Linked DNA regions of Homo sapiens. The protein of the gene in region 2 binds, or shares a complex with, the protein of the main gene of each other region. Each region holds a gene or a part of one and is shown on either strand. Other genes may lie near its edges. The genes, in order: TAB1, OGT, ZNF831 and CSNK2A1. A codon is read from its position in the direction of its gene.

Region 1 (7,582 bases), on a different chromosome or scaffold from region 2:
TAATTTTTTGTATTTTTTAGTAGAGACGGGGTTTCGCTGTGTTAGACAGGATGGTCTCAATCTCCCGACCTCGTGATCCACCCACCTCGGCCTCCCAAAGTGCTGGGATTACAGGCGTGAGCCACCACGCCCAGCCAAGTGGCTCATATTTGTAATCCTAGCACTTTGGGAGGCCGAGGCAGTCAGATCAGTTGAGCCCGGGAGTTTGAGACCCGCCCGGGCAACATCGCAAAACCCTGTCTCTACAAAAAACAAAATGGAAAATTAGCCAGGTGTTGTGGCACACCTGTAGTCCCAGCTACTCGGGAGACTGAAGCAGGAAAATCACCTGAGCCTGGGAGGTCGAGGCTTCAGTGAGCTGTGGTTGCGTCACTGCACTCCAGCCTGGGTGACAGAGTGAGACCCTGTCTCAAAAAAAAATAAATAAATAAAGTAGCCGGGTGTGGTGTTGTGTGCATGTAATCCCAGCTACTCGGGAGGCTGAGGCAGGAGACTCACTTGAACCCAGGAGGTGGAGGTTGCGGTGAGCCGAGATCATGCCATTGCACTCCAGCCTGGACGACAAGAGCAAAACTCCATCTCAAAAAAAAAAAAAAAAAGGCAGCCCACCTCCACTTTGTTTTCCTCCATAGCACTTGTCACCACCTGACATACTTACTAGTTTATTTATTACCTATCTCTCCTCACCGAATGTGGAAGTCTCATAAGGGCAGTGTTCTTGTCCCTGCTTACCTGGCATGTACTAAGTGCTCTATTGAGGATTGTTGAATTAACGCATGAATCTTCCCACCAAATCTCCTCCTTTCTCTGTGCTCATCATCTAAGTAAAAGGCACCATCATCTACCAGTCATCCCCCTGGGTATTATCCCAGATTTGTCCCTCTTTTCAAAAACCCAAGCATACGCCAGATCTTGTTGACTTAACATCCTAAATATTTCTCAAACCATCCCTTCTGTCACTGCCTTGGTTCTCCTCTTCCATAGCAGATGCCTCAAATGCATAGAGTAACATGCTGCTTTGCACACTGTGAATGTTTCAGCATCCTCTCTGCCCCCTGCGCTCTCTGTCTACCTGCCAGGCCCAGACCTGGCCCTCCTCTAGTGGCCCTGTCTCGGCAGATCCTCCACCACTGGGCCGACGGCCTGGGCCAGGAACCTGGGAGTCATCTTCCACTCCCCTTTCTTCCGCTTCCAATCAACTGCCAGAGTCTTTCTACTTGACCTATTTGGATATTTTTGAAAACTGTCCATTTCTTTTATCCTCATGGCCACCATCCTGGTCCCGGCCACCTCCTTCCTTCTCTTATCTGGGTTATCCCAGCAGGCTCCTAATACTGGTCTCCCTGCTTCCTGTCTGACTCAGTGGGATCCCTCTGAAACACAAATATGATCATGTGACTCTCCCACTTAAATGAGTCCCTACCCTTACAAGATAAAGCCAATTGCTTCTGTTGCACCCATATCCCTCCCTGATTTGTTCTCCTCAGCTCGGCCACAGTCAATTTCTGCCTTTGCCAGTTCCCCCCTCACTTTGACCATGCGATCCCTTGGCCTGAGATGCGCTTTCTATCTTCTCTGCTCAATCCCTCTGCCCTCCCAGACCCAGCTGGAAGGTCACCTCCCCTGTGAAGTCTTCCCTGACTCCCCCAGCAGAATTAACTGCCCCCTCTCTTGGGCTTCTGGCTCCACTCAGTTTGTCACAGGCCTGATGAGCAAGGATATCTTGATAAAGGTGATAACTGGCCGAAAAGCAGTTGGGGCGCCCAATGGCGCAGCCTTCAGAAGCACCTTCTGTGTTTTTGGAACTGTTGGCAGCATCCCAAGGTGAAATGGTAGAAGCATATGGCATGATCATGGGGAAATGGGTCTGGGGAAGGGAAGAGAAGCCACATATTTGGAGCAGATTCTGTTCCTGTTCTAAAGGCTTGGAAGATGTTACTTTATTGAATCCTTGTAACATCCCTGGGAGGCAGGGGTTTTAAAAACAAAGACAGTGGTGGCCGGGCGCGGTGGCTCATGCCTGTAATCCCAGCACTTTGGGAGGCCAAGCAGGGAGAATCTTTTTTTTTTTTTTTTTTTTTTTTTGAGACAGAGTCTAACTCTGTTGCTAGGCTGGAGTGCACTGGCGTGATCTCGGCTCACTGCAACCTCCGCCTCCTAGGTTCAAGCAATTCTCCTGCCTCGGCCTCCCGAGTAGCTGTGATTATAGCCACACACTGCCATGTCCATCTAATTTTTTTTTTTTTTGAGACAGAGTCTCACTCTGTCGCCCAGGCTGGAGTACGGTGGCGCGATCTTGGCTCACTGCAACCTCCGCCTCCCGGGTTCAAGCGATTCTCCTGCCTCAGCCTCCCAAGTAGCTGAGACTATAGGCACATGCCACCACACCCGGCTAATTTTTTGTATTTTTAGTAGAGACGAGGTTTCACCATGTTGGCCAAGATGGTCTTGATCTCCTGACCTCGTGATCCACCCACCTCGGCCTCCCAAAGTGCTGGGATTACAGGCATGAGCCACCGCGCCCAGCTCGGGAGGATCTTTTGAGCTCAGGCGTTTGACACCAGCCTGGGCAACATGGTGATAGCCTGTCTCTACAAGAATACAAAAATTAGCCGGGCGCAGTGGCACATGCTGTAGTCCCAGCTACCCGGGAGACTGAGGTGGGAGAATCACTTGAGCCCAGAAGCTTGAGGCTGCAATGAGCCATGATTGTGCCACCGCACTCCAGCCTGGACAACACAGTGAGAACCTGTTTTTTTTTTTTTTTTAAATGGTGGGGGTCAGGGAGAGATGGCTTGCAAATGAATGTTTGTTTAATTTTATAAAAAGCAGGCAGGTGCCAGGTGCAATGGCTCACGCCTGTAATCTCGGCACTTTGGGAGGCGAAGGCAGGTGGATCACCTGAGGTCGGGAGTTCAAGACCAGCCTGACCAACATGGAGAAACCCCATCGCTACTAAAAATACAAAATTAGCCAGACGTGGTGGCGCATGCCTGTAATCCCAGCTACTTGGGAGGTTGAGGCAGGAGAATCGCTTGAACCTGGGAGTCAAACATCTCTCTACCAATGGGACCCTGTCAATGGCTTGCTTAGAAGGCAACAACTTCCCTCTGTCCTCCAGATGAATAAACTCCTGCCTGGGGCCCACTTGGTCAGAGCCTGTCCCTACAACCCCTTCATCTCTCTCCTCCAACTCTGTGCAAGCCACAGTGGGCTCCCGTGACAAGTGTGCTTTTTTTTTTTTTTTTTTTAAGACAGAGTCTCACTCTGTTGCCCAGGTTGGAGTGCAGTGGAGTGATCTCAGCTCACTCACTGCAACCTCCACCTCCCAGGTTCGTGATTCTCCTGCTTCAGCCTCCCAAGTAGCTGGGATTACAGGCGTGCACCACCATGCCTGGCTAATTTTTTGTAGTTTTAGTAGAGATGGGGTTTCACCATGTTGGCTGGACTGATCTCGAACTCCTGACCTCAGGTGATCCACCGGCCTCGGCCTCCCAAAGTGCTGGGATTACAGGCATGAGCCACCGCGCCTGCCCCCGGCAGAATGTCTTATATACATAAATGTTGTCCTCTCCAATTAAAATGTTAACATTTTAGGTTGGGCGGGGTGGCTCACACTTGTAATCCCAGCACTTTGGGAGGCCCAGGCAGAAGAATCGTTTTAGGCCAGGAGTTTGAGACCAGCCTGGCCAACATAGCGGTACTCCGTCTCTACAAAAAATGTAAAAGATTAGCTGGGCGTGGTGGCGGGCGCCTGTAACCCCAGCTACTCGGGAGGCTGAGGCAGGAGAATCGCTTCAACCCGGGAGGCAGAGGTTGCAGTGAGTCCAGATCACGCCACTGCATTCCAGCCTGGGCGACAGAGCAAGCCTCCGTCTCAAAAATAACATAACATAACATAACATAAAATAATAATAAAATGAAATGAAATAAAATAAAATAAAATGTTAGCTTTTTGAAGGCCTGTCCTGCTCGCTGCAGAACCCACTATAGAGCCAAGCAGGGTCACCTAGGTAGCATTTGCTGAGTGAATGAATTGTCCTCCCCTTACCAACTGTGTTCACAAAGAACCCTCAGGAGTTCAAGACCAGCCTGGCCAACATGGCGAAACCCCGTTTCTACTAAAAATACAAAAATTAGCCGGGCGTGGTGGCTCATGCCTGTAGTCCCGGCTACTCCGGAGGCTGGGGCAGGAGAGGCGGGCACCTGTAATCCCAGCTACTCGGGAAGCTGAGGAAGGAGAATCGCTTGAGGCCGGAAGGCAGAGGTTGCAGGGAGCTGTGATCGCGCCACTGCACTCCAGCCTGGGTGACAGAGTGAGACCCTATCTCAAAAAATAATAAAGATGGGCGAGGAGCAATCGGCCCCGAGGAAAAGACAAAACAAAACAACAACAACAACAACAACAACAAAACGTGCAAGAGCGCGCCTGCGCACACGGTCCGCTACGACCCCCATCCCTCTTCGGGCGTGGGGTGGCGCTGGGCGCATGCTCCCCGGCAGCGCGGTCATCCTCGCCTCCTTCGGGCCGCTCTAGCCGCCCCACTCGCTGCTCTGCGGGGAGGCGGGCGCTCCCGCAGGGGTTCCTCCAAGATGGCGGCGCAGAGGAGGAGCTTGCTGCAGAGTGTGAGGAACAGGCCCGCTCTCTGGGCTTGGGGTTGGGAGCCTGGGCGGGGGTGCTGTCGGGTGCAGGAACGGCTCCTTCTCCGAGTTTGGACAGCCACCCTCTCCGTGGTGGGGTGTGTCAGCCACCTTCTCCTCTCCTCGGGCTGGCCCCCTCGTTCCCGAGGCCAGGGCGTGTGTGCGCGGCGGGCCCGGCCCCCGGGTCAAGGGCGCCGGGGCTGTGGGCTGCTGCTGCCGGGCGTCGAGGGCGGGAGCGTCCTGGAGCCAGAAGGGAACACGGCGGGCGGCAGCAGAGCTATCCGAGTCTCGAGCCCACTGCGACACCGAGCAGACGTGCAATGATAATAACAGCAGCATCCACAGTGTACCGCTTACTGCATCCCCGGCGTTGTGTTAATTGCTTTACATTTGTCAGTTTCATTTTCGTAGCAGCCCCCTGAGATAGGTGCTACTGTTATTCCTATTTGACAGACTGAGACACTGAGGTGGTCGTTTGCCTAAGGCCACACAAATGGTACGTATTGAGGCAGGATTAAAATCAGGCAGTGTGATTCCAGAAACCCCCTTAACCCCTGGGCTGTACTAAAGGAATGACCAGTGGTAGCTGTCACTGGGTTCTGGTCCTGGCTCTGACTGTGTCTCCCTCAGCCTCAGTTTCCTTCTCCTAAGGCGAGAGCGCTGAGTGGAAGAATTGTCTTCAGACTCATCCCTACCCCCGGTCTGGACCCTCATGGGTTTGGCGCTGTCTTCCAGGCCCTGCGTCCTCTGACGCGTATGTGCACATAGATGCACACACATGTTGGCACCATGGACTACTCTGACCTACCAGGGTAGGGTGCTGGCCTCCTGGGTCCTTCCTATGCATGGCACTGTTAGAATTGTCTATGGACTTGTCTGCCTCCTGTACTAGAAAGTAAACTCCGCCGGGCGCGGTGGCTCATGCCTGTAATCCCAGAACTATGGGAGGCTGAGGCGGGTGGATCACGAGGTCAGGAGATCAAGACCATCCTGGCCAACATGGTGAAACCCCGTCTTTACTAAAAATACAAAAATTAGCCGAGCGTGGTGGGGGCGCCTGTAGTCCCAACTATTCGGGAGGCTGAGGCAGGAGAATTAGCTTGAACACAGGAGGCGGAGCTTGCAGCGAGCCAAGATCGGGCCACTGCACTCCAGCCTGGAGCGACAGAGCGAGACTGTGTCTCAAAAAAAAAAAAAAAAAAAAAACGAAAGTAAACTCCTTGAGGACAGGGACCTGTGATCTCTTGTTTACCGCTGTGTCTCTATTATCTATCACCATGTGCTGGGCACTCAATAAATACATTTGTGAAAGGATGAGTAAAGGTTTGTAGCCAGGTCCAGTGCTCGCCCTTGGCGTCACAGAGGTGAGTAGACATTGGCTCAGGGATAACCTGGAACCAGAGCCTTGAAATTATTCTCCCAGGAGCACAGTTCCCAGGCCTCCCCAGTGGGGATTGCTGTCTTCCCCTCCACACCTTTACTACTCCTTTATTTTATTACTGCTGGGCACGTCTGTCTTGTTACCGAGTTGGCATTGATTTTAGACGGCTGGCCCTCTGCTTTGTAAGTTCCCAGAGGGCAAGGTCCCTGTATAACTGTCCCCACTCTAGTTAGCATTTGGGAAACGCTGGTTGGATTGTGACATTGGGAGGGAAAATTGTAAATGGTGCAGGCTGAGTTGGCTTGCTGAGAAGAGAGCAGCCACCTGGGTCATGTAGAGTAGGTGGCTGCCAGCTTCTCCCCTTCCTAGATGTGATGGAACCAAAGGGAATTGTGTTAGGCAGAAGGCCAGCTCTACTAGCCCCAGAATGTGTTTCTCCAGGTGGTGGTGGCCTTTTTTAAAGCAAGAATAGTTAGCTTTAAACACATTGCATCTTGGTGCGTGGCAAAGGGATGGCAGGGATGTCATCAGAAGGCCCCTCCGCCCTCATGATGATCAGGACATCCCTCTCACAGGTTGTATGGATGTCCAGGTGGTGTGTAGGGCTTGCTGATGTCACATCCACTGTCTCAAGTCTGGGGAGAACAACTCAGCTCAGACACCTGCATTCAGAGATGGCTGTGAGGGCTGCTGGTCTGTGGCTACTGGGCAAATATGAATGAGGCGTGGTGCCCACCCTCACTGCGTTTGTAGATCAGCTTGGGAGGAGCATATGCCACTGATACAATACCTGGGGCACTGTCTTGTTATTGTAGACCTGTGTCAAGAGCCCTGGGCAGACAGCAGAGAATTTTAGAGGCTTTAAAGGATGAGAGGAGTTTGCCAAGCAGAGGAGAGGAGGGCCATTCCAGGAGGATGTGTATGTGTGTTTTCTTGACACGTGTGTTTTTGTTTTCATTTTTCTTCCTAGAGATGGGGTTTCGCCATGTTGCCCAGGCTGGTCTAGAATCCTGGGTTCAAGCAATCCTCCTGCCTTCGCCTCCCAAAGTGCTGGGATTACAGGCATGAGCCACCGCATCTGGCTAAGGACAGGTGTTTAAATATGTGTGCATGTGTTTGTTAAGCTTTTCACAAGTTAAGTACAATTAGTACTACAAGTCTATGTGTTGAGGGGCTGCAGAGTGGCCTGATTGGTCTGGGTCAGTGGAGGTTTGCAGGAATGGCATTTGCAAGGGTATGCTGGGGCCACTTGGTAGATCACTTGGTGGGAGCATCATTGCAGGCACTGTGGTACCTTGAAAGGTCTTTTGAAGCAAAAAGCTTTTTTGTGGGTGTATGGGGAAGACAGGATCTCACTGTCACCCAGACTGGAGTGAAGCGGTGTGATCTCGGCTCACTGCAACCTCTGCTTCGTGGGTTCAAGTGATTCTTGTGCCTCAGCCTCCCAAGTAGCTGGGATTACAGGTGTGCACCACCACACCAGCTAACTTTCATATTTTTAGTAGAGACAGGGTTTCACCACGTTGCCTAGGCTGGTCATGAACTCCTGGCCTCAAGCAA
Region 2 (7,019 bases):
AGGTACTACTGTTTATTATAATATGTGCAGTTTAACACCTAAAATTTAACTTTTGGAAATTTTTTACCATCCTGCTTTATTTATTTTCCAGGATTCAGGGAATATTCCAGAAGCCATAGCTTCTTACCGCACGGCTCTGAAACTTAAGCCTGATTTTCCTGATGCTTATTGTAACTTGGCTCATTGCCTGCAGGTAAAGAATAACAGGCCAGTAATTGGCTCTCAGTGTTGTAATAGCTTTTTAATTGTTGTATGCCATAAGAATCCAAGCCTGACTGGAAATAGTATTTTTAATAGGCTATCTGACATTACTTTAGGCCAAAGACATATCAAATATTAAATCCTGGGATAGGACTTTCTGGATAATAACTTGTTTTTGCTTTCTCTAGATTGTCTGTGATTGGACAGACTATGATGAGCGAATGAAGAAGTTGGTCAGTATTGTGGCTGACCAGTTAGAGAAGAATAGGTTGCCTTCTGTGCATCCTCATCATAGTATGCTATATCCTCTTTCTCATGGCTTCAGGAAGGCTATTGCTGAGAGGCACGGCAACCTGTGCTTAGATAAGGTGTGATTCTTTTGTTTTAATCTTTTTGTTGTAAACTAAAACACAAATACAGAAAACTGTAAAAATCAAATCTGTGGCTTAATGAACGATTATAAAGTGAACACCACCCAAGTCGAGAAATAAAACTTTTGTGGGCCACTTCAGAACCCCTTCCATTGTGTCCTGAGTATAACCCCCTGCACTTCATAAGACGGAATCCTTAACTCCTTCACTTAAACACTAATGATAGACTGATGGTACTTTTCTTTAAGTTGAAAGCCATAATTTTTTTTTCTTTTATCTTTTTTTTCTTTTTTTTTTGAGACGGGGTCTTGCTCTGTCGCCCAGGCTGGAGTGCAGCGGTGTGATCATGGCTTACTGCAGCCTTGACCTCCCCGAGCTTAGGTGATCCTCCCACCTCAGCCTCCTGAGTAGCTGGGACTACAGGCGCATGCCACCACACCTAATTTTGTGTTTTTTGTAGAGATGGGGTTTTGCTATGTTGCCCAAGCTGGTCTTGAACCTCTGGGCTCAAGTGATCTGCCCACCTCGCCCGGCCAAAGTGCTGGGATTACGGGTGTGAGCCACCGCGCCTGGCCAGCCATCATGTTTAATGGAGTGCTTGGTATTTTGTATTCACCTTTGAGAATTAGAGCAGTACTTGATCAAGGATTGGATCAAAGGTTGGATAATAGATTGGAGTGCTAGGTGTACTTTTTTTTTTTTTTTGAGACATAGTGTCTCTGTCATCCAGACTGCAGTGCAGTGGTGCCATCTCAGCTCATTGCAACCTCTGTCTCCCAGGTTAAAGTGATGCTCGTGCCTTAGCTTCCCGAGGAGCTAGGATTACAGGCGTGTGCCACCACGCCTGGCTAATTTTTGTATTTTTAGTAGAGATAGGGCTTTGCCATGCTAGGCTGGTCTCGAAATCCTGACCTCAGGTGATCCACCTGCCTCAGCCTCCCAAAGTGCTGGGATTACAGGCATGAGCCACTGCCCCCAGCCATAATTTTGTTTTTAGAAAATGTTTCCCTATAGAATTTTCTAAAATGCGGGAGGAAACCATGCTCTGTCCATACTGCTTCATACCTACAAGTGTTAGATTTGCTCGTACTTTTTTTTTTTTTTTTTTTTTTTTTTGAGACAGGGTCTTGCTCTGTTGCCCAGGCTGGAGTGCAGTGGCACAACCTTGGCTTACTGCAACCTCCACCTCCCAGGTTTGGGCGATTCTCCCACCTCAGCCTCCCAGGTAGCTGGGACTACAAGCATGTGCCACCACGCCCAGCTAATTTTTTTTTTTTTTTTTTTTTTAGTAGAGATTGGATTTCACTGTGTTGGCCAGGCTGGTCTCGAACTCCTGACCTCAAGCGATCCACCTCCTTGGCTTCCCAGAGCGCTGGGATTTGCTCATGCTTTATAGATCTCAGGAGCAGGTCAAAGTATGAAGCATATTACATAAAGTGCTGAGGTTGCATCTCTCTGGCAATATTAACTAAATGCTCTGGGCAGACCTTTTTCAACAGGTGTGAGGTATAGGTTTGGTGTGTTTTTCGTCAGTTTTCCTAGATGAAAATTTATGTAGATTTTACTAACAAGCATTGGATTCTGTTGATAGATTAATGTTCTTCATAAACCACCATATGAACATCCAAAAGACTTGAAGCTCAGTGATGGTCGGCTGCGTGTAGGATATGTGAGTTCCGACTTTGGGAATCATCCTACTTCTCACCTTATGCAGTCTATTCCAGGCATGCACAATCCTGATAAATTTGAGGTAAGACTAGTGTTTCTCTAGAATCACTATTTGTTTAAAAAAGAAAAAACCCACAATGTTGGCTTGTCACCATGAGGCATGGAAACCTAGTGTCTTTTGGAAAGATTTGAGCCAGAAAGATTTGAGCCAATGTTATTAAATATGCCATGTGCTGCCTTTCAGGTGTTCTGTTATGCCCTGAGCCCAGACGATGGCACAAACTTCCGAGTGAAGGTGATGGCAGAAGCCAATCATTTCATTGATCTTTCTCAGGTAGATGAAACTCTCATACTTTAACTTTTTATTTTGAGCAAGTTTAAATAAAACTATTAGCATATAGTTTATTTTTGATGATAAGTATTAAATGCTGTAGTACCACATATAGGCAATTGTGTTGATCTTATTTCCTTGATCATTTGTGTTAATCAGCATGGCTTTTTCCGAGGTTGCAAATGAAACTGAAATGTGTTATGCTTGTGCTTGGACATACAACTTTTCTGGAGATTGAGCCAGCACTTGTGACAGAAGATACTTAATAAATATTGACAAAATGGTGACTTGGGAGAAGAATAAATAGGTCTTTTAAAGAAAATAGGGCCGGGTGTGGTGACTCATGCCTGTAATCCCAGCACTTTGGGAGGTCGAGGCGGGCAGATCATGAGGTCAGGAGATGAGACCATCTTGACTAACATGGTGAAACCCCGTCTCTACTAAAATACAAAAAATTAGCTGGGTGTGGTGGTGCATTCCTGTAATCCCCGCTACTTGGGAGGCTGAGGCAGGGGAATCGCTTGAACCCGGGAGGCGGAGGTTGCAGTAAGCTGAGATCGCACCACTGCACTCCAGCCTGGCAAGAGCAAGACTCTGTCTCAAAAAAAAAAAAAAAAAAAGAAAAAATAGATGAACTATGGTTCATCAGTTTCCATGGGCCTTTGCCTTTGGTTATCTTTATTTCTGTACTTGTTCTATTGTTGTATCCTCTAGGAGAGTAAGTTTTATGATAAATTAAGATTGAAACCTATGGGGGAATTAATTTGCTGAGTATGTAGGCTACAGTGTTTTCTTTGTAGACTCTATTAGCCACTTTGACTAATAGAGATAATATACTCTTTATATGTGTGTGTACACACATGTATGTATGTACATACACATGCAGGTATGATATGTATGCATATATGTATAAATATACATGTGTATGTGTATATATATATGAATCACTGAAGTCCTAGCAGAAAGGTTTTGAGACTTCTCATTTAATAAATAGTATGTACTAACAAATTTTGCAGTATAGCTGTTGCTTCAAAAGTATACCTGGCCATTTTTGATACACAGTTGGACTCTTTGTGACCAAGAAGCATACCTCTTTCTACCTCTGAGACCTTTAGGGACTCACTGCTGATTGATTGCAGTCTAAACTCTTCAGCATAGCTTTTGTAACCTTTCTCTGTTTGCCACAACTTTGTCAATACTTTAACTCACCATTCAACATCTTGTATACCCTATACTAAATAGAAGTGAATTACTCACCCTTTTTTTTTTTGAGATGGAGTTTTGCTCTTGTCGCCCAGGGTGGAATGCAGTGGCACGATCTCGGCTCACTGCAATCTTTGCCTCCCAGGTTCAAGCGATTCTCTTGCCTCAGCCTCCCGAGTAGCTGGGATTACAGGCGCCTGCCACCACACCCGGCTAATTTTTGTATTTTTAGTAGAGACGGGGTCTCACCACATTGGCCAGGCTGGTCTCGAACTCCTGACCTCAGGTGATCCACCTGCCTCGGCCTCCCAAAGGGCTGGGATTACAGATGTGAGCCACCATGCCCGGCCTACTCACCATTTTCTAAACTCCCTCACACTTTACTCTAGTTCTTCATTCATACTGTTCTCTACTGAGATTGTATTCTGTTAAACTCCTTCAAACTCCTATTCGTCTTTGAAGACCTATTTTCAAATACCAATTCTAGGCTGGGTGCTGTGGCTCACGTGTATAATCCTTTGGGAGGCTGAGGTGGAAGGATTGCTTGAGACCATCATGGGCAACATAGTGAGACCCCATCCCTACCAAAAAAAAAAAAAAGATTACAAATTTCAAATACCAATTTCTCTGTGATATGTTGTTATTCATACATTCAATCCAGAAGTGAACTCTCCTTCCTTTGTGTTCTGTTTCTTTAATGCTTTGGGCCCATTTTAATGACAGTCAACCATATTTGTGCCCGAATTAATGTAGTTAATTTGTGTTCTTACCTCTTTTCCATCTGGGAATCTGAATTATGTTAAATGCCATTAAAACTAAATGCCATTAAAACTAAATGTCATTAAAACTAATTGATCTGAGATTATACATAGTGAGTTCTTATTTTGTATTCTGTAGATTCCATGCAATGGAAAAGCAGCTGATCGCATCCATCAGGATGGAATTCATATCCTTGTAAATATGAATGGCTATACTAAGGGCGCTCGAAATGAGCTTTTTGCTCTCAGGCCAGCTCCTATTCAGGTAAACAAATTAACAGTCATCACTTATAACATGTATTTGGCTAAGAATACAGTGAGGTGCTGCTTTTCCTCCCTCTGGTTAACTGATATTTGAAACTGTAGGGCAGACATACTTTTAATTTTTTTAAGTTGTTGAAATGCACAGGACAAAAAGAGTGTAGAGCACAGTGCTTATAGGTACATGTATATAGAGACATGCAATTCATGGTTGGCTATGAACAGTTACTCTGTCTTGCAAATTTGAAGAACATTTTAGCATTTTGAAAGTTAGTCTGAAATACAGGCCGGGTATGGTGGCTCACGCCTGTAATCCCAGCACTTTGGGATGCTTAGGCAGGAGGATCTCTTGAAACCAGGAGTTTGAGTCCTGCCTGGGCAACAAAGCAAAACACCCTATCTCTACAAAAAATTAAAAAATTAGCCAGAGTGGTGGTGTGCCTCTGTGATCCCAGCTATTTGGGAGGCTAAGGTGGAAGGATTGCTTAAGCTTAGGAGTTTGAGGCTGCAGTGAACTATCACTATGCCACTGCACTCCAGCCCAGGTGACAGAGTAAGAGTCTCTCTTATAGAACTGCTTCATTGCTTTCGGCTAAAGAAGTCAGCCTTGCTGTGCGTGTGGCAAGTGCCTGTAATCCTGGCTACTCTGGAGGCTGAGGCAGAAGGATTGCTTGAGCCCAGGAGTTTGAGGCTGTAGTGATCTACGATTGCACCACTGTATTCCAGCCTAGGGAACAGAGTGAGATCCTGTCTCTAAAAAAGAGTTAGACCTCCTTGTTTATTTACTTATTTAATTTTGGCACCTTTAGGTTCTTTTTTTAAAAACCACTTTATTGAGGTACAGTTGACATACAAAAAGTTGTACATATTTAATGTATGTGACTTGATGAATTTAGAGGTAAGTGTACTGATAAAAGTTCTTAATCAGTTTTTGATCTGATTTTTTTAAGGCAATGTGGCTGGGATACCCTGGGACGAGTGGTGCGCTTTTCATGGATTATATTATCACTGATCAGGAAACTTCGCCAGCTGAAGTTGCTGAGCAGTATTCCGAGAAATTGGCTTATATGCCCCACACTTTTTTTATTGGTGATCATGCTAATATGTTCCCTCACCTGAAGGTAGGTATGAAACAGTGCTATGGACGAATTTCAAAGAACTGTAGCTTTTTATTTCCTTGCTATTGTCTATGTAAATCCTAAAAGACATGTCTGAAACTATTTTTTCCATTAGAAAAAAGCAGTCATCGATTTTAAGTCCAATGGGCACATTTATGACAATCGGATAGTTCTGAATGGCATCGACCTCAAAGCATTTCTTGATAGTCTACCAGATGTGAAAATTGTCAAGGTCAGAACCTAGTCAGTATTGTCATTGAAATAAAGTTAACTGCATTCACGATCTTTTCCCTAATGATGCATTTTTTTTTCAGATGAAGTGTCCTGATGGAGGAGACAATGCAGATAGCAGTAACACAGCTCTTAATATGCCTGTTATTCCTATGAATACTATTGCAGAAGCAGTTATTGAAATGATTAACCGAGGACAGATTCAAATAACAATTAATGGATTCAGTATTAGCAATGGACTGGCAACTACTCAGGTGAGAAGATAATAATACACCATTATATGTCCCGCCAAGTATGCATTTATTTCCCTTAACCTCATGATAACTCTAGGAGGCAAGTATCATTATCACCATTTTTATGGATGAGGAAATGAGTTTAGTGGAAACGTGCATCTTATATAGGTGTGTCTGATTTTAAAAGTCTCCTGGATTCAGCCAGCAGATTATTACTTACTGAGAAACTGCTGTGTTAATATCTTGTTATTCCCTGCCTGTGGCTTTACTCTCTTACATGATGAACTATGTGTAGATTCCATACAGTTTCTTGCTTCTGTAAACCCATCCTTTCCCTAGCTAAATCCTACTCAAACGTTCAGTTCAGACAGCTCTTCCAGGAATCCATTTCCGTACTTACCGCTAACGTCTCCATCCCTACTTCATTGGTACCTGTCTTTTATACCTCTGTAATGTTTGGAATATATCATTACATACAGCACAACAGATGATAATTCCCTGTGTTTGTATCCTCTACTGAATTGAATTACTGAGCCCATGTCTTAATCACAGTAATGTAGTATGTACTCAATAAATAATATATTGCATGCTTAAATAAGTAGCTCTATCAAGAGAGTGTAAGGCAAAGATCTCTGACCTCTAGA
Region 3 (7,904 bases), on a different chromosome or scaffold from region 2:
ACTTTATGTGCACGTCACCAGTCTGTCAACTGATGTCTCTTTCTGTTCCAGGATCCAAGCCAGGGTGGGTGGTGATTTTTCATATAACTTTTTTCAAGTGCCATAATTATGGAGTTATTTTAATGAATATTACAAAAAATATCACATCAATTATTATAGCTTGGGACAAATTAAATGATAAAAGCAAGTCAATTTGAAGAGGTGTGTTATGAAAATAAATACAGATGACTTGTGGTACAGCCCTTTACTTCACAGACCCACCAAGAAGCTCAGGCTTGCTTAACACCAAGCAAATCCCTAACAAAGTCCTGGTGGGGCTGAGATAAGGACTAGCAACCCAGTACCCCTTCCATGGCCCAACAGCGCCCCTCTCCCTGTTTGGATGCTGCAGAAGGGAGGAAGGAGGTGGAGAGGAGAGGAACTCTCAGTGGGAATAAAGTTTCCTTTTCAATTATTCAGCTGATCCTTGACCCCCATTACCATGGATAATCAAAAACGGGGTGGATGCATCATGCCTTAAATAAAAACATCGCTGAGGTGGCCCTGAGGATGTGCAAGCAGATAATTGCATGGGGTGTTCATCCAATGACACTCCAGGGGGAGGTACTTTCCTATATGCACGGAGATGAGAGCGGTGGCCCTCAGCACAATGTCGCACATCTGAGGAGTGTTACTTCCTGAGGGGGGCTCCTCAGGTTCAGCTTCCTGTTCCCTCGCACAGGGCTGGTGATGATCAACCTCTTCTGACAATGGAGAGAGCATGCGGTGGATGTTAGGGGAACCAAACCCCAAGAGGGAACCAGCTTCAGTGGAAAGCGGAGTGCGTGCCTCCCCGAGGCAGGGCATTGCTGAGCCCCAGAGAGGAGCCCTGGGTTCCGCTGCCTCCCCCACAGGACAAGGCATGACAGCACCTGCATTGGAATATAGACTGTGCTTTGGAGCCTTTGGCATCAGCTTCCACCTGGTGCGTAAGTCTGTGGTCTCTCCAGCAAGTTCAGGGAAGTGAGGGAGTCGCAGTTCTCTGTCATTCAGCAGGTGTGGACTGAGGGCTGGCTCTGTGCCAGGCCCTGTGCTGGATGCTGGGTTCCATTGTGAGGCCAGGCACAGCCAAGGCAGAGACGAACATTCCTACAGTCGCTCACGACACCAAGCTCCACAGACCAGAGAATGGACGGATCCACAGGAACGAAAGACAGGCTGTCAGGTGCCCAGCCCTGGGGAGACTCCAGAAGAGGAGAGAGGACCACCCATCATGGCTGACCTTGGGAGGACTTGGGTCTTCACAAATTGTGTTCCTTGGTATATATAAGAGGGTTAAAATAGACACAAGAAATATCCATCTATTCCCATTCATTTATTTGACACATACTCTTGGGGCCATGAGTTCAATTCCCAGAAGAGGATCATGATGGTGGGGGGAGGAAGGATGTGGCGAGGGGCCGTGCAGGAGCCCAGGGGGCTTGTCTCATGGACGCTCTTGATCGAATTCCTCTGAGGCCCCAGAGGTGCTCCTTCATCCCCAGCTTGCTTGTGAGGCTGCGTTGGCTCCCCAAGGCCGAGTTTCCTGCTGAGACCCAGCCACACACTTAGCCCTGAGTGTACCAGGTGGCTCCACTCAGAGCGCTGCTCCAGCCCCTCTCCCTGGGGCTTCCTGCCACGTGACTGCACATTTGGGGTCTGGAGAAGGGCCCAGGGACTGAACTGCAAAGGTGAAGGGTGTCCCTGCTCCTCCTGACCACAGCTTCTGGACTGGCATGTGTGTCTGATGGTGCAAGACCAGAGGGGCATGGCCAATGAGAGAGTTATTCTTTCTACCCGTGAGTCTCCCTCGGACACACAGGATTTCTCATGTCTCCTCCTGGTTTTGCTGCTTTTTTTTTTTTTTTCTAGCTGCATGAGGTAGTTTTGTTTGAAAGAATAGTCAATGCAGACTGCAGTTTTCCGAATGAGGCTTGCTCTTGGCAAGTGAGTGAGATATCTTTGTGTTTGTTTGTTTCCTTCAGAAAAAAGGGCCTGAGAAAGCAAGTTAACAATTCTTTGGAAATGATTTTTCTTTTTCTTTGGTGACTGTTGCCACATGCTTAGTTCATTGGTTATTGGTTGCATGCTCTGGAGAGTCTATCTGTACCATGGTGCTTAGAAAAATTAGAATGGGAGTGATGGATTTATTTGTTATATTGAATTGATATAACTCACATACCATGCAATTCACCCTTTTAAAGTGTCGGATTCAGTGGCTTCTAGTATATTCACAAGGTTGTGCAACCATCACTGTGATCTAATTCCAGAACATTTTCAACACCCCCAAAGAAACCCCATACATTACAGTCACTCTCACTGTCTTTGTTTTTTTTTGTTTTTTTTTGAGATGGAGTCCCGCTCTGTAGTCCGGGCTGGAGTGCAGTGGCATGATCTCAGCTTGCTGCAACCTCTGGCTCCTGGGTTCAAGCTATTATCCTGCCTCAGCCTCCTGAGTACCTGGGACTACAGGTGTGCACCACCACACCCGGCTAATTTTTTGTATTTTTAGTAGAAATGGGGTTTCACCATGTTGGCCAGGCTAGTCTCAAACTCCTGGCCTCAAGTGATCCGCCTGCCTTGGCCTCCCAAAGTGCTGGGATTACAGGCATGGGATTACATGTTGCTGCATGGATACATGATTTTATTATTTTTATGGCTTTGTATATTCCGTGGTGTATATATGCCACTTTTTCTTCATCCAGTCTACCGTTGACAGGCACCCAGGTTGATTCCATGCCTTTGCTATTTGTGAATAGTGCTGTGATAAACATACGAGTGCAGGTGTCTTTTTGGTAGAATGATTTATCTTCCTTTGGGTAGATACCCAGTAATGAGATTGCTGGGTCGAATGGTAGTTCTACTTTTAGTCCTTTAAGAAATATCCAAACTGTTTTCCACAGGGGTTGAACTAATTTACATTCCCACCAACAATGTGTGAGTGTTCCCTTTTTTTTCTGCAACCTCACCAACATCTGTTATTTTTTGACTTTTTAGTCATAGCCATTCTGACTGCTGTGAGATGGTATCTCATTGTGGTTTTGATTTGCATTTCTCTGATAATCAGAGATGATGAGCATTTTTAAAATATGCTTGTTGGCTGCTTGCATGTCTTCTTTTGAGAAGTGTCTCTTCATGACCTTTGCTCACTTTTTAATGGTTTTGTTGTTGTTTGTTTAAGTTCCTTATAGATTCTGAATATTAGACCTCTGTTGGCTGCATAGTTTGCAAATCGTTTCTCCCATTCCATAGGTTGTCTGTTTACATTGTTGATTATTTCTTTTGCTACATAGAAACACTTTGGTTTAATTAGGTACCAGTTGTCAATATTTATTTTTGTTGCATTTGCTTTTGAGGACTTAGTCTTAAATTCTTTGTCTAGGCTGACATTCAGAAGAGTATTTCCTTGGTTTTCTTGTAGGATTTTTATAGTTTGAAGTCTTACATTTAAGTATTTAATTCATTTTGGGTTAATTTTTGTATATATTGAGAGGTAAGAGTCCAGTTTCATTCTGGAATTAGAGTGGCACTAATCACTCTATTCAACATTCTTCTGCATATGGTTAGCTAGTTTCCCCAGCACCATTTATTGAATAGGGGGTCCTTTCTTTCACTGTTTATTTTTGTTGACTTTGTTGAAAATCAGTTGGTTTTAGGTGTGCAGCTTTATTTCTGGGTTCTCTATTCTGTTCCATTGGTCTGTGTGTCTATTTTTATACCAATACCATGCTGTGTTGGTTATTGTGGCCTTGTAGTATAGTTTGAAGTCAGATAATGTGATGCCTCTGGCTTTGTTATTTTTGCTTAGGATTGCTTTGGCTATTCGGGCTCCTTTTTGGTTCCATATGAATTCTGGAATAGTTTTTTTCTAATTCTGTGAAAAATGACATTGGTAATTTGATAGGAATAGTGTTGAATTGCTTTGAGCAGTATGGACATTTTAATGATATTGAGTCTTATAATCCATGAGCATGGAGTGTTTTATCATTTGTTTGTTTTCTTTCAGTAGTATTTTGTAGTTCTCCTTGTAGAGATCTTTCACCTCCTTGGTTAGATGTATTCCTAGGTGTGTGTGTGTGTGTGTGTGTGTGTGTGTGTGTGTGTTGCTATTGTAAATGGGATTGTGTTCTTGATTTGGCTCTCGGCTTGAACATTACTGGTGTATAGAAATGCTACTGATTTTTGTACATTGATTTTTGTATCCTTAAACTACTGAAGTCATTCATTGGGTCTAGGAGTCTTTTGGTGGCAACTTTAGGGTTTTCTAGATATAGAATCATATCATCAGTGAAGAGAGATAACTTGACTTCCTCTTTTCCTATTTGGATGCCTTTTATTTCTTTCTCTTGCCTGATTGCTCTGGCTAGGATTTTCAGTACTATGTTGAATAGAGTGATCAGTGCCATATCTTAAAAATAAAACCTAATTCAAACAAATCCATGTTGAACAAAATATCACCATTTTACATAAAGACAGCATCGCAGAAATCTTTCACTGGGACCTCCCACCATAGTCAATTGCAGTGGAAATGCTCATTCTGGGCCCTCAGGAACCTCTGGGGTTACATGTGGAGGTTCTGCAAACACTTGTTCCATCCACATCTCCAGGAAAACGACCACCTAGGCTCTAATTCTTAAACTTGCCTGCACAGAACAACCTCATCTCTAATGCAATGTTTTTTTGCACACCTACATTTCTGGGCAGCAAGCTCTTTATAGGTTGTTAGGTCAATAGTAACAATTACTAAAGAGCTGAGCGGTGGCTCTTTTTTTTTTTTTTTCGTGTCTGCTTCTATCTCTTCCTGTTTTCTAAGGGTTGCTACCGTGACGTTAGGTAATGTATAGGAAATAATTTACTTCCTATTTCTGGGCCATACCAAGTTTTATCTCTGCTTGAGTCTCTTCCAGGTTGCTTGAAATGGTGCTTTTCTCAGTTAAACGTGGACTTGACATAAAGGCCAAGCCACAGGAGGCTGCCCTCTTTTATTTTATTTTATTTTCTAAGGCTCAGGGAGCATCTCTCCGTTCTCTGAGATGCTGCCTGCAGAGTAGGAACTGGGAGAGAACACTAAAATGCCCTCTCAGCAAAGAGTAGCGAGCTCCCTACAGAGAGTGAGAGCACGGGCTCTTGAGCTCATCTCTTCTCTGTGGGGCCAGCCCAGTGGTCCTTTCTGGACCTGTGGGTGTCTTCTCTGGGCAACCAGATCATTGTGTTTGAATCAGAGCATCATTGGCTGAAAACACTCCACTGTTTATAAAGGTATGTAACATGCTCCATGACATAAGCATATATAAAATGTCAGTTAAAAAAAAACTCTTTTACTCTATGTTCTTAATGATATATTTATCTTCAAGCACGCAGTTAAAGGGAAAATGCTACGTAAAACTGTGTGTGACCCAGTTCAAGTAATTCTCTCATGTGCTTAATACTGCTGTTGCTTTTGTCAAAATATTTACTACAATTCAAAATGGCTGTCAGAAACCAGGTCCACAATCCATGTTCTACTAAACAGAAAAACATTTATAAGAAAATTTATTGCTTTATAAACTGTTTTTTTTCCCAGTGATGAACCTAATTAAACTGAAAGTGTGAATTGGTTAGAACATATTAGCCCAAGTATGTGTGGTATATATATACACATATATATGTATGTTTTATTAGGCCAAGTTTTTTATTTGTATATAATATAATTGAAATATCAAGGTATTTGATAGAGCTACTATTTATAGCAATTCTACTGATCAGCCACCCAAGGGTAGCATTTTTCAATGAGATTTACAAGGGCCAATAGTCCATGTATTTATACACATATCTGACTTCCCAGTATCCAAAATAGCAAAGAGCTGGAGGCTATCTCAGATCAGCCATGGAAGCCATGCTCTGAGAGGTAACGTGTTTCTCCTTTCCCGTAGCAAATCTTTCTGTAAGAATGAAACCAGAGATGTTATCTACCAAAATGCAACGAGGGACAGGATGCAACTTAGAAAAATGGTAACATTAGCTGACTGGGAAAAACAGAATCAACGTCAGGGCCAGTTTAAAATAATATGCCTTTTAACCACCCTCGCTTTATTGCCCCAGCTAAGAGCAAGTATTTAGGACCATAGGCTAATATTAATCAGAGAGAACACTTAGGTTCTGTGGCAATGTTGGGGTCTGTGAGATTTGCTTCCTTAGCTGTGCTTCCGCTGGGAAGCTGGGGAGGGTTGGTCCTGAAGGAGGAGTGCCATGTGAGCAGGGTTACCCAAAAGCACCTGCCTAGGGGAAATGGGCTCACTATCAGGCGCCGTGGAGTTACCAGCTAGAGAGACTTTTCTCCTGGTAGAGACCATGAACATCATGTAAGCAGAGAACCAAGACTGTAAAAGGGAGGTAGGGTAGGCTGTTTGGTTAGGGGAGTGGGGCAGGAACAGACACAGGGAGAGTCTACCACGTCTGGACAAATCACATCTATGGTTTTATCCAATCCTTTGAACAAATGAACATGAGCCCCACTTTTCAGATAAGGAAAACACAGCATGGAGAGTTTAAGTGACTTATTCCAGGTTACAGGGTTTATAGGTAGCAGAGCAAAGGTTCAAAGACAGGTCTTATCTCCAGGGTCTGGGAACTTTACCCACCATGCTGCCTGTCTGGGTGTGGCATGGCAGGGAAGGCTGAGTTATGCTGGAAGGTCACACTCAGGGATTTCTGCAGAGTGACTTTGGGGCATAGGTAGGAAGCTTGTTCTCAGTACTGGCTTGTTACCAAGTGAGAGATCTTTGTATGTTTTCATTGCTTTCCTTGTAGTTCCTTTTTTTTTCTTCTTTTTTTCTTTTTTGGAGCTGTAATCTCGCTCTGTCACCCAGGTTGGAGTGCAGTGGCATGATCAGCTCACTACAACCTCTACCTTCTGGGTTAAAGCGATTCTTCTGCCTCAGCCTCCTGAGTAGCTGGGATTATAGGTGCTCACCACCACAACTGGCTAATTTTTTTGTATTTTTAGTAGAGAAGGGGTTTCGCCATTTTGGCTAGGCTGGTCTCTAACGCTTGACCTCAGGTGATCTATCTGCCTCGGCCTCCCAAAGTGCTGAGATTACAGGCGTGAGCTACCACACCCAGCCCCTTGTAGTTTCTTTATGATCACTTTGTATTCATAGCAATGTTGGAGCTTTTCCAGATATGGTAAATGGTAGTGATGTCAATTTTCCTTTGAATATATAAGGGTACATAAGAAAAAGTGAGTTGATATAAAGAAAATGAAAGGAAAATGGTCTGTGCAGAGTCGGTGTTTCTCCAAGGGTAGGCTGTGGTACTCGTGGCTAGGGTCGGTTCTAGATACACTATGGATGCTGCAGTAAATAACATTGACTCACACACTGGGAAGGTTGTTCCTGTTTTGATTCTATTTACGTATTTATTACTTTCATAAATTAGCCTCTTTGTTTTGAGAACATTGCAGATTCACCTGCAGTTGTAAGAAAAAAATACAGAGAGATCCCATGTGTTTTTTACCCAGTTTCCTCCAATAGCAACATCTTGCAAATCACAATCAAAATATTGACAGTGATATAGTCAAGATACAGAACATTTCTGTCACCGCAAGGATGCGTCGTGGACACCCCAAATCCCTCCTGCTCTCCTCCTCTCTCTCTCCCCCCCAACCCCTTAACCCCAAGCAATCACTAGTCTGTCCTCCAGTTTTATAATTTGTCATTTCAAGAATGTTATATGAATGGAATCATTCAGTGTGGTGTGTAGCCTTTGGGGACTGACTTTTTTCATTCAGCATAATTCTCTAGAGATTCATCCAAATGTTTCATGTGTCAACGGTATGCTTCTTTTTATTGCTCAGTAGTGTTCTGTGATATGGATGTACCACAGTTGGTTTAAATATTCATTGTTGA
Region 4 (7,019 bases), on a different chromosome or scaffold from region 2:
GGCCAGGTGCAGTGTCTCACGCCTGTAATGCCAGCACTTTGGGAGGCCAAGTTGGGCGGATCACCTGAGGTCAGGAGTTCAAGACCAGCCTGGCCAACATGGTGAAACCCCATCTCTACTAAAAATACAAAAATTAGCTGGGCGTCATGGCGGGCGCCTGTAGTCCCAGCTACCTGGGAGGTTGAGGTGGGAGAATCGCTTGAACCCGGGAGGCGGAGGCTGCAGCAGCTGAGATTGTGCCACTGCACTCCAGCCTTGGCCACAGAGCAAGACCTTGTCTCCAAAAAAAAAAAAAAAAAAAAAAAAAAAAAAAAAAAAAAAAAAAATATATATATATATATATATATATATATGAGAACATTATTATACATTCTTCTCCACTCCTCTTAGACATGGCTCTGCATCTCACTTTTTCTTTTGAGACAGAGTCTCACTCTCACCCAGGCTGGAGGGCAACGGTGCGATCTCGGCTCACTGCAACCTCTGCCTCCCAAGTTCAAGCGATTATCTTGCCTTAGCCTCCAAGTAGCTGGGATTAAAGGCGCCGCCGCCACGCCCAGCTAATTTTTTGTATTTCCAGTAGAGACAGGGTTTCGCCATGCTGGCCAGGCTGGTCTCGAACTCCTGACCTCAAGTGACCCACCCGCCTCAGCCTCCCAAAGTGCTGGGATTACAGGCATGAGCCACTGCACCTGGCCCTGCATCTTGCGTTTTAAATTTCACATTATTATATTGGAGTTGGAGATCTAACAGAACATGAAACTCTTATTCTACTGGCTGCACCACATTCCATTAAATGGATATACCATAACTGATTTAACCAGTTTCCTACTGATAGCTATTCTCAATGTTTTGTTATTACAAATAAGGCTACAAGTAAGTTTGGATATACATTACTCTGTACAGAGGTAGGATACTCAAGGGGTAAATTCTAGAAGGCAGTTAGTTCTTTTCTTAAAAAAGAGGAGGGCAACAGCAATTATTTGAGGATATGTAAGTAAATGCCTTCACTACCAGATATGCACCCACTTGGATGTTGCCTATATGTATAATTCTTATGCTATGTGCCTGTAGTTCCTTTGGAATAACTGGGTACTCTATAAAAATTCACTGTGCGTCACAATGATCCAATAATGGAAAACCATTTTACTTATGTTTTTACAACTGATAGGCACTCTATAGTTGCTCTGGCACATGTCACGGAACTGTCCTTGTACACATACACACCTATGTATAAACCCCACCTCTATACCCCATTTCTTAACATTGTTTCTAAGGGCCATGTAACTACTGTCATTTCAAACTATAAGATGAAATGGTGTATTTTTCCTTTTCATGGCTTGGCACTTTCAAGCCCCTATGCCAAAAATTTTCAGCCAGGAATGCTGAGATTCTAGCCTAGAAGGGGATACCCTACTCAAGACAGTATCACTAAAGTATACCAAATGTCAAGCATGCTGAAACCTGGTTAAAAAAAAGTCACAAGGCCACCAGTACGGAGAAGAGAAGGTATACAAGAAATCAGACCACAAAGCTAAGAACAGTAATTGACTTCCACATTTTTTTAAAGAAAATTTACCAATGAACTGACCTGACATCATATTGGCGCTGCTGACGGGCGTACTGCCCCCTGGCATGCTAGATGAACCCATTCGAGCCTGGTCCTTCACAACAGTGTCTAGAAAAGAGACAAAAAGGCTAGGTTCTGTTTTGCTTGAAAGATTAAACTAATGGTCTGGAAGCCTGAAAGCAGCCAGCTTCATTCTTTGCAATTTATATATACTCTACATTATTCCCCAAAGAACTTAAGGTGGCAATTGCCTTCACCATGAATTAGACAAGTGGTAAAAAGCAGAAATAGCTTTCCTATCAAACTGTGGTAAAAGCTAACCTTTCAATCAAATGGTAGAAAGATGAGGTAATTATTTATAGCAGAGCGAATTTAATGAAGCCCTGGTCCTGTTGAGGTTTAATGGAGACAAGACACTGTAACTCGGCAAAGACGGTAATATATTACCAGTGTGTCCACAGCCCAGTACCAAGTAGGCCAAAGCTATAGGTCCATGTAGCTTAGGGCTATGACCACATTCTCTATCCCAATCAGCCTATCTATCTGCTTCAGGTATTGGGCAAAAGTATAAATGATTCAGTACAAAACCATCACACCGAAGGAAAAATGTCATGTTGCAGCTAACATCACAGTGCAGATGGGGTGGGTCTCAGTGGTATTTTCACTTAGGATGGCACAGGTGGCTATACTCACAAATCTAAGTCAAGGTGTTCATACAATTTTAAGATTTGTAAGCCTCATTAGCTCTTTCCAACGAATGATTACTAGGGACAGGAAAGATACAGGGCTGTGTATTCTAATTCAACCATTCCAGACTGAGGCACTGAGAAGTGTCATCCTCACAGTATGAAAAGAGTTTATTTAGGAATGCTCTTGTGTCATGTATTCTGTTACAGAAGAATTCTTCCAGTAATTCTGCAATGTAGTTGCCATCACTATCCCCACTGGAAGAATCTGAGGCTCAGTGTGGGTGAATTAACTTTGCAGCAAGCTGACAGGAGCTGGGATTACGACTCTGTTCTATAGGACTCTGCGCCTGCACAAACTCTGTGGGCTAGATATCTGGACTCACAGAAATAGGGGTGCTCCATTGCCTCTCTTGCAGTAAGCCGTGACTGGTGGTCATATCGCAGCAGTTTGTCCAGGAAATCCAAGGCCTCAGGGCTGACAAGGTGCTGATTTTCACTGTGGACAAAGCGTTCCCATCGCTTTCGAGAGTGTCTGCAGGACCAAAAGAGGGCATGAGAAATGGGCCACGTGGGCACAGAAGCCCAACATTTCATTCCTACATTTTTCTTAGTGGCTAACAGCCCAGACAAAAGCAAAGAGGGATCCAAACTCAAGAGGGTAGTCTTGCACCGCTCTGCCACTGAGTGGGACAACAAAGCTAACTGGAGACTGGAAACAACATAGCTAGAGTGAAAAAAGACATCTGAGTCCTCTCAATTTTAAGAAACATAATTCAGGTTACTTGACAGGACGTGACCGCTTCTGTGTAGCAAGGAGGGTCAGGTGGCTGAGCTCACCAGGCCTATTTCCCATCCCCACACATATTCCTGGCATCTCTGCCAATTGGCCAGCAAAAGCCTTTGCATCAGGAAAGTCCATCTCCTCCTGTTGAGTGGTTAAGTGTATAAGTACTATATCTAGTCACTACTGTTAAGAGTCGGTTGTCTGCATATAGCCTTTTTTTTTTTTTTTTTGGAGACAGGGTCTCACTCTGTTGCCCAGACTGGAGCGCAGCCACATGTTCATTGCTCTCTGTAGCATTCCCTCCTGGGCTCAAGGGAAGCTCCTGCCTCAGCTTCCTAGTAGTCTGGACTACTGCCACACATCACCATGCATGGAGTCGAGGGTCTCATTATGTTGTCCAGGCTGGTCTCCAACTCCTGGGCTCAAGTGATCCTCCTAAAGTTCTGGGATTACAGATATGAGCCACCGTGCCCAGCCTGCACATCAGTCTTAAAGCATGCATTTTCTACTTCAATTTCTTTCTCTTGGAGAGAGGTTTTTCACTTAAAGAAGCAAGGTAAATTTTGATTTTTGCCTCAACTGTAACCCTTCTACTAGAATCTACATTCATTTTGTAGGAATCCTCTAGCTATAACCCCTCCATCAGACTCCTGTAAGTTAATTTGAATAAAGGGCCATTCAATCCAATGCCTTTATCAGAGGCCTGCTCAATGCAGCATCCTGTGGCACTGGACCACTGACATCCTGACAGTGCTGGCAAAGAAAACATAACTATTTTGAAGATCCTAAGTGCCAGTTCACTCTCAAAGTGCTTAAGCCACAGATGCACATATTTTGTTTCATGACTTACCTGCCCAAGATATCATTGAAACGTGGATCTAATTCAATGTTGTATTTGTCAATATAGTCATATAAATCTTCTGTCCCCAGAACCTTGGCTATCCTCACCAACTAGTATTAAAGAAAGACAAAAACCCATATCACAAGCATATTATATTAACAAATCAACAATTAACAATGATTGAATTTACATAAACGGGTCATCATGTCTACAGGTATGAATGCTACCTCCTAACAGTTTAGACTTCAACTCAATGTGATAGTGTTAGAAAAAGCAAACTACTTTATAAACTGGTTTCTTCCTCTTGAAATGTCACCCTGGTGAACCCTTATTTTTCTCCCCTCAAAACCCAATTGAAGATGTCACTTCTTTTGGGAAGCTCCCATTGCACACTCAAACTACTCACCACTACTGCCTTTTGTGCCTTGTCCACATTTCTACTCTGAAGTTATGACTGTAACCTATTTTGTTGTATGTTTGACTCCCTTACAAGATCAGCTATGAACTATCTGAGGGGAAGAAAACTATTCTTTCTTTTTTCTGTATTCCTCAGTACTGCATGCACTTGATACAGAGTTATTGACTTTAATGGAATTCAGGTTGTATTCTTTGACTCATTAAAATTGGACATGGTGCTCAAAGGGAACAAGACAATGGTACCTTCCACAAGGTCCTAGAATCATTCCAGGTTCTTGTGAATGAAAGAGCCCTTTGATCTTCAAGGGGGAAGTGGAGTTAGTTTAAGAAACATCTGTAACTCAACCCATATAAAGAGCCAAAAGGATCACAGAAATACCACATATGGGCTCACATATTGGAGAAAACACCATATTGGAGATAAGGGTTTATTAGGAGAATTCTAAGGTAATGTCCTATTTTAAAAATCTGGATGACAATTTATATGTATTCTTCACAATAAAATAAGCAATGCAAATGACAAAGACTAGGGGGGAATGTCTGATTTCAAAAGGCTAAGCTGGTAGCTCCCGAAACATCAATCTAAGGATCAATATCGGGGTGGCTGAATAAACAGTGAACTGAAAGTTACAGGCAGTGCTGGCTATCATTGCATTAGGCCAGTACATTTTTCAATGGGTATAACATATATTACCTGATCATAATTGTCATGTCCATGGAAAAATGGCTCCTTCCGAAAGATCATACTTGCCAGCATACAACCCAAACTCCACATATCCAAACTATAATCGTACATCTGCATAAAAGTAAACTCACTGTTATTATCTGTGAATCCTCAGGCTTGTCACTTCAAAATAAAAAATTAATTTTTAAAATTAAAAAAAAATCACTCCACTGACTCAAAATCAAAACACTAATAACATCTTCATATATTTCTTTTTAGTCTTTCTTTTTTTTTTTTTTGGAGACAGAGTCTCACTCTGCTGCCCATGCTGGAGTGCAGTGGCGCAATCTTGGCTCACCACAACCTCCGCCTCCCGGGTTCAAGCAATTCTCCTGCCTCAGCCTCCTGACTAGCTGGGACTACAGGCGCGTGCCACCATGCCTGGCTAATTTTGTATTTTTAGTAGAGACGGGGTTTCACTACGTTGGCCAGTGGTCTCAAACTCCTGACCTCATGATCTGCTCGCCTCAGGTTCCCAAAGTGCTAGGATTACAGGCATGACCCACCGTGCCTGGCTAGTTTTTTCTTTTTTTTTTTTTTTTAGTTTTTTTTTTAGTTTTTTCTTTTATGCATCTTTCACTCGGTTTTAAAACAATTTTTACTTTTTTTTTTTTTTTTTGAGACAGAGTCTTGCTCTGTCGCCCAGGCTGCAGGGGTGTGATCTTGGCTCATTGCAACTCAGCTTCCCAGGTTCAAGCAATTCTCTGCCTCAGCCTCCTGAGTAGCTGGGATTACAAGCGCCCACCACCGCGCCTGGCTAATTTTTTTGTATTTTTAGTAGAGACAGGGTTTCACCATCTTGGCCAGGCTGGTCTTGAGCTCCTGACCTTGTGATCCACTTGCCTTGGCCTTTCCAAGTGCTGGGATTATAGGCGTGAGCCACTGTGCCTGGCTCTTTTTTTTTTTTTTTTAAAGACACAGGGTCTTGCTCTGTTGCCCAGGCTGGAGTGTAGTGGCGTGATCATAGCTCACTGCAGCCTCCAACTCCTGGGCTTAGGCCTCCTGAGTAGGTAGGATTACAGGCATACACCACTATGCTCAGCTAATATACATACTATTTTGAATTGTTTTCTTCACTTACATGAAAAAAAAAAAAAAAAAACCTCCAAATTGTTAGCCCATGGAGACCATCTAATGTGTATCATTAGTATTTTATTACATAAATGTTTCAGAATTCAATCTTTAATTTTCCTATAATAGGACAGTGTTCTGTTTTTCACAATTATTAGTAATACTGTAAAAACTATTTTTATGCATAAAATGCTTTTTGAACTCAGGGCTATAGCCTTAAGACCCCAAGAAAGAAATTCCTACAAGAACAAAAAGTCTGAAACTTTTAAAATCAACTGATAATAACCTGGAAAGACTGGGCATAAAAGATACTCCCAAGAAAACTTCAGATTTTTAAACACTTGGCAAATCTATTATTAATTTGGTTCCTTTCTCCTTTTTCTGTGAGGAGAAAGAAGGCTTTTTGGGGGAGCTGGGGAGAAGACCTTTTTATTTAGTATACAATTCAGAAGAACAAGAAAACATTCTTGAATTTACTCTGAAGATTGGTTAAACTTAGTTACAGGATGGGCATGGTGGCTCATGCCTGTAATCTCAGCACTTTGGGGAGCCAAGGTGTGAGGATGGGTTGTGCCCAGGAGTTTGAGATCAGCCTGGGCAACATAGTGAGACTTTCTCTCTACACACAAAAAAATTAAAAATTAGCTGGGTGTGGTAGTGCACGCCTGTAGTCCCAGCTACTCAGGAGGCTAAGCTGGAAGGATCACTTGAGCCCAGAAGTTCGGGGCTGCAGTCAGCTATGATCATGGCATTGCACTCCAGCCTGGGCAACAGAGCAAAACCCTGCCTCAGAAAACAAACAAAAGGCCGGGCGTGGTGGCTCACGAGGGCAGGAGATCGAGACCATCCTGGCTAACACAGTGAAACCCAGTCTCTACTAAAAATACAAGAAAAATTAGCTGGGGTGGTGGTGGGTGCCTGTA

Evidence for each region.
Region 1: the proteins of OGT (region 2) and TAB1 are in contact, whole or in part, in a crystal structure (PDB 4AY6), measured with the Homo sapiens proteins. Residues at the interface, in NP_858058.1 of Homo sapiens: Asp441 (codon at 92), His506 (codon at 483), His508 (codon at 489), His509 (codon at 492), Asn567 (codon at 2,260), His568 (codon at 2,263), Pro569 (codon at 2,266), Gly641 (codon at 4,741), Tyr642 (codon at 4,744), Thr643 (codon at 4,747), Lys644 (codon at 4,750), Ala646 (codon at 4,756), Gln849, Phe878, Pro904, Val905, Ala906, Pro907; in NP_006107.1 of Homo sapiens: Pro389, Val390, Val392, Pro393, Tyr394, Ser396, Ala397, Gln398, Ser399.
Region 3: the proteins of OGT (region 2) and ZNF831 are in contact, whole or in part, in a crystal structure (PDB 8FUF), measured with the Homo sapiens proteins. Residues at the interface, in NP_858058.1 of Homo sapiens: Phe723 (codon at 6,045), Ile734 (codon at 6,078), Met779 (codon at 6,295), Ile787 (codon at 6,319), Ile790 (codon at 6,328), Asn791 (codon at 6,331), Arg792 (codon at 6,334), Gly793 (codon at 6,337), Leu808 (codon at 6,382), Ala809 (codon at 6,385), Thr831, Arg832, Ser833, Gln834, Tyr835, Gly836, Leu837, Pro838, Glu839, Arg877; in NP_001371283.1 of Homo sapiens: Phe937, Ser938, Pro939, Lys940, Tyr941, Leu942, Leu943, Arg944, Leu945, Pro946.
Region 4: the proteins of OGT (region 2) and CSNK2A1 are in contact, whole or in part, in a crystal structure (PDB 3PE4), measured with the Homo sapiens proteins. Residues at the interface, in NP_858058.1 of Homo sapiens: Lys406, Asp441 (codon at 92), Leu502 (codon at 471), Pro503 (codon at 474), Ser504 (codon at 477), Val505 (codon at 480), His506 (codon at 483), His508 (codon at 489), His509 (codon at 492), His527 (codon at 546), Asn567 (codon at 2,260), His568 (codon at 2,263), Pro569 (codon at 2,266), Tyr642 (codon at 4,744), Thr643 (codon at 4,747), Lys644 (codon at 4,750), Ala646 (codon at 4,756), Gly664 (codon at 5,756), Thr811 (codon at 6,391), Asn815, Thr819, Gln849, Phe878, Pro904, Val905, Ala906, Pro907; in NP_001349699.1 of Homo sapiens: Pro340, Thr344, Pro345, Val346, Ser347, Ser348, Ala349, Asn350, Met351, Met352.

What each region holds. Positions count from the first base shown.
Region 1 is NC_000022.11:39,395,210-39,402,791, forward strand, and holds the start of TAB1 (TGF-beta-activated kinase 1 and MAP3K7-binding protein 1), read left to right. Parts: upstream 1-4,570; 5' UTR 4,571-4,593; coding exon 4,594-4,626; intron 4,627-7,582. UniProt on the Homo sapiens protein: Key adapter protein that plays an essential role in JNK and NF-kappa-B activation and proinflammatory cytokines production in response to stimulation with TLRs and cytokines.
Region 2 is NC_000023.11:71,557,104-71,564,122, forward strand, and holds part of OGT (UDP-N-acetylglucosamine--peptide N-acetylglucosaminyltransferase 110 kDa subunit), read left to right. Parts: coding exon 1-2; intron 3-91; coding exon 92-193; intron 194-389; coding exon 390-569; intron 570-2,163; coding exon 2,164-2,322; intron 2,323-2,484; coding exon 2,485-2,574; intron 2,575-4,671; coding exon 4,672-4,797; intron 4,798-5,743; coding exon 5,744-5,914; intron 5,915-6,026; coding exon 6,027-6,143; intron 6,144-6,225; coding exon 6,226-6,396; intron 6,397-7,019. UniProt on the Homo sapiens protein: Catalyzes the transfer of a single N-acetylglucosamine from UDP-GlcNAc to a serine or threonine residue in cytoplasmic and nuclear proteins resulting in their modification with a beta-linked N-acetylglucosamine (O-GlcNAc).
Region 3 is NC_000020.11:59,158,931-59,166,834, forward strand, and holds the start of ZNF831 (zinc finger protein 831), read left to right. Parts: upstream 1-4,890; 5' UTR 4,891-5,277; exon of another isoform or gene 5,278-6,009; intron 6,010-7,904.
Region 4 is NC_000020.11:484,785-491,803, forward strand, and holds part of CSNK2A1 (casein kinase II subunit alpha), read right to left. Parts: intron 5,098-7,019; coding exon 4,996-5,097; intron 3,995-4,995; coding exon 3,894-3,994; intron 2,792-3,893; coding exon 2,643-2,791; intron 1,679-2,642; coding exon 1,592-1,678; intron 1-1,591. UniProt on the Homo sapiens protein: Catalytic subunit of a constitutively active serine/threonine-protein kinase complex that phosphorylates a large number of substrates containing acidic residues C-terminal to the phosphorylated serine or threonine.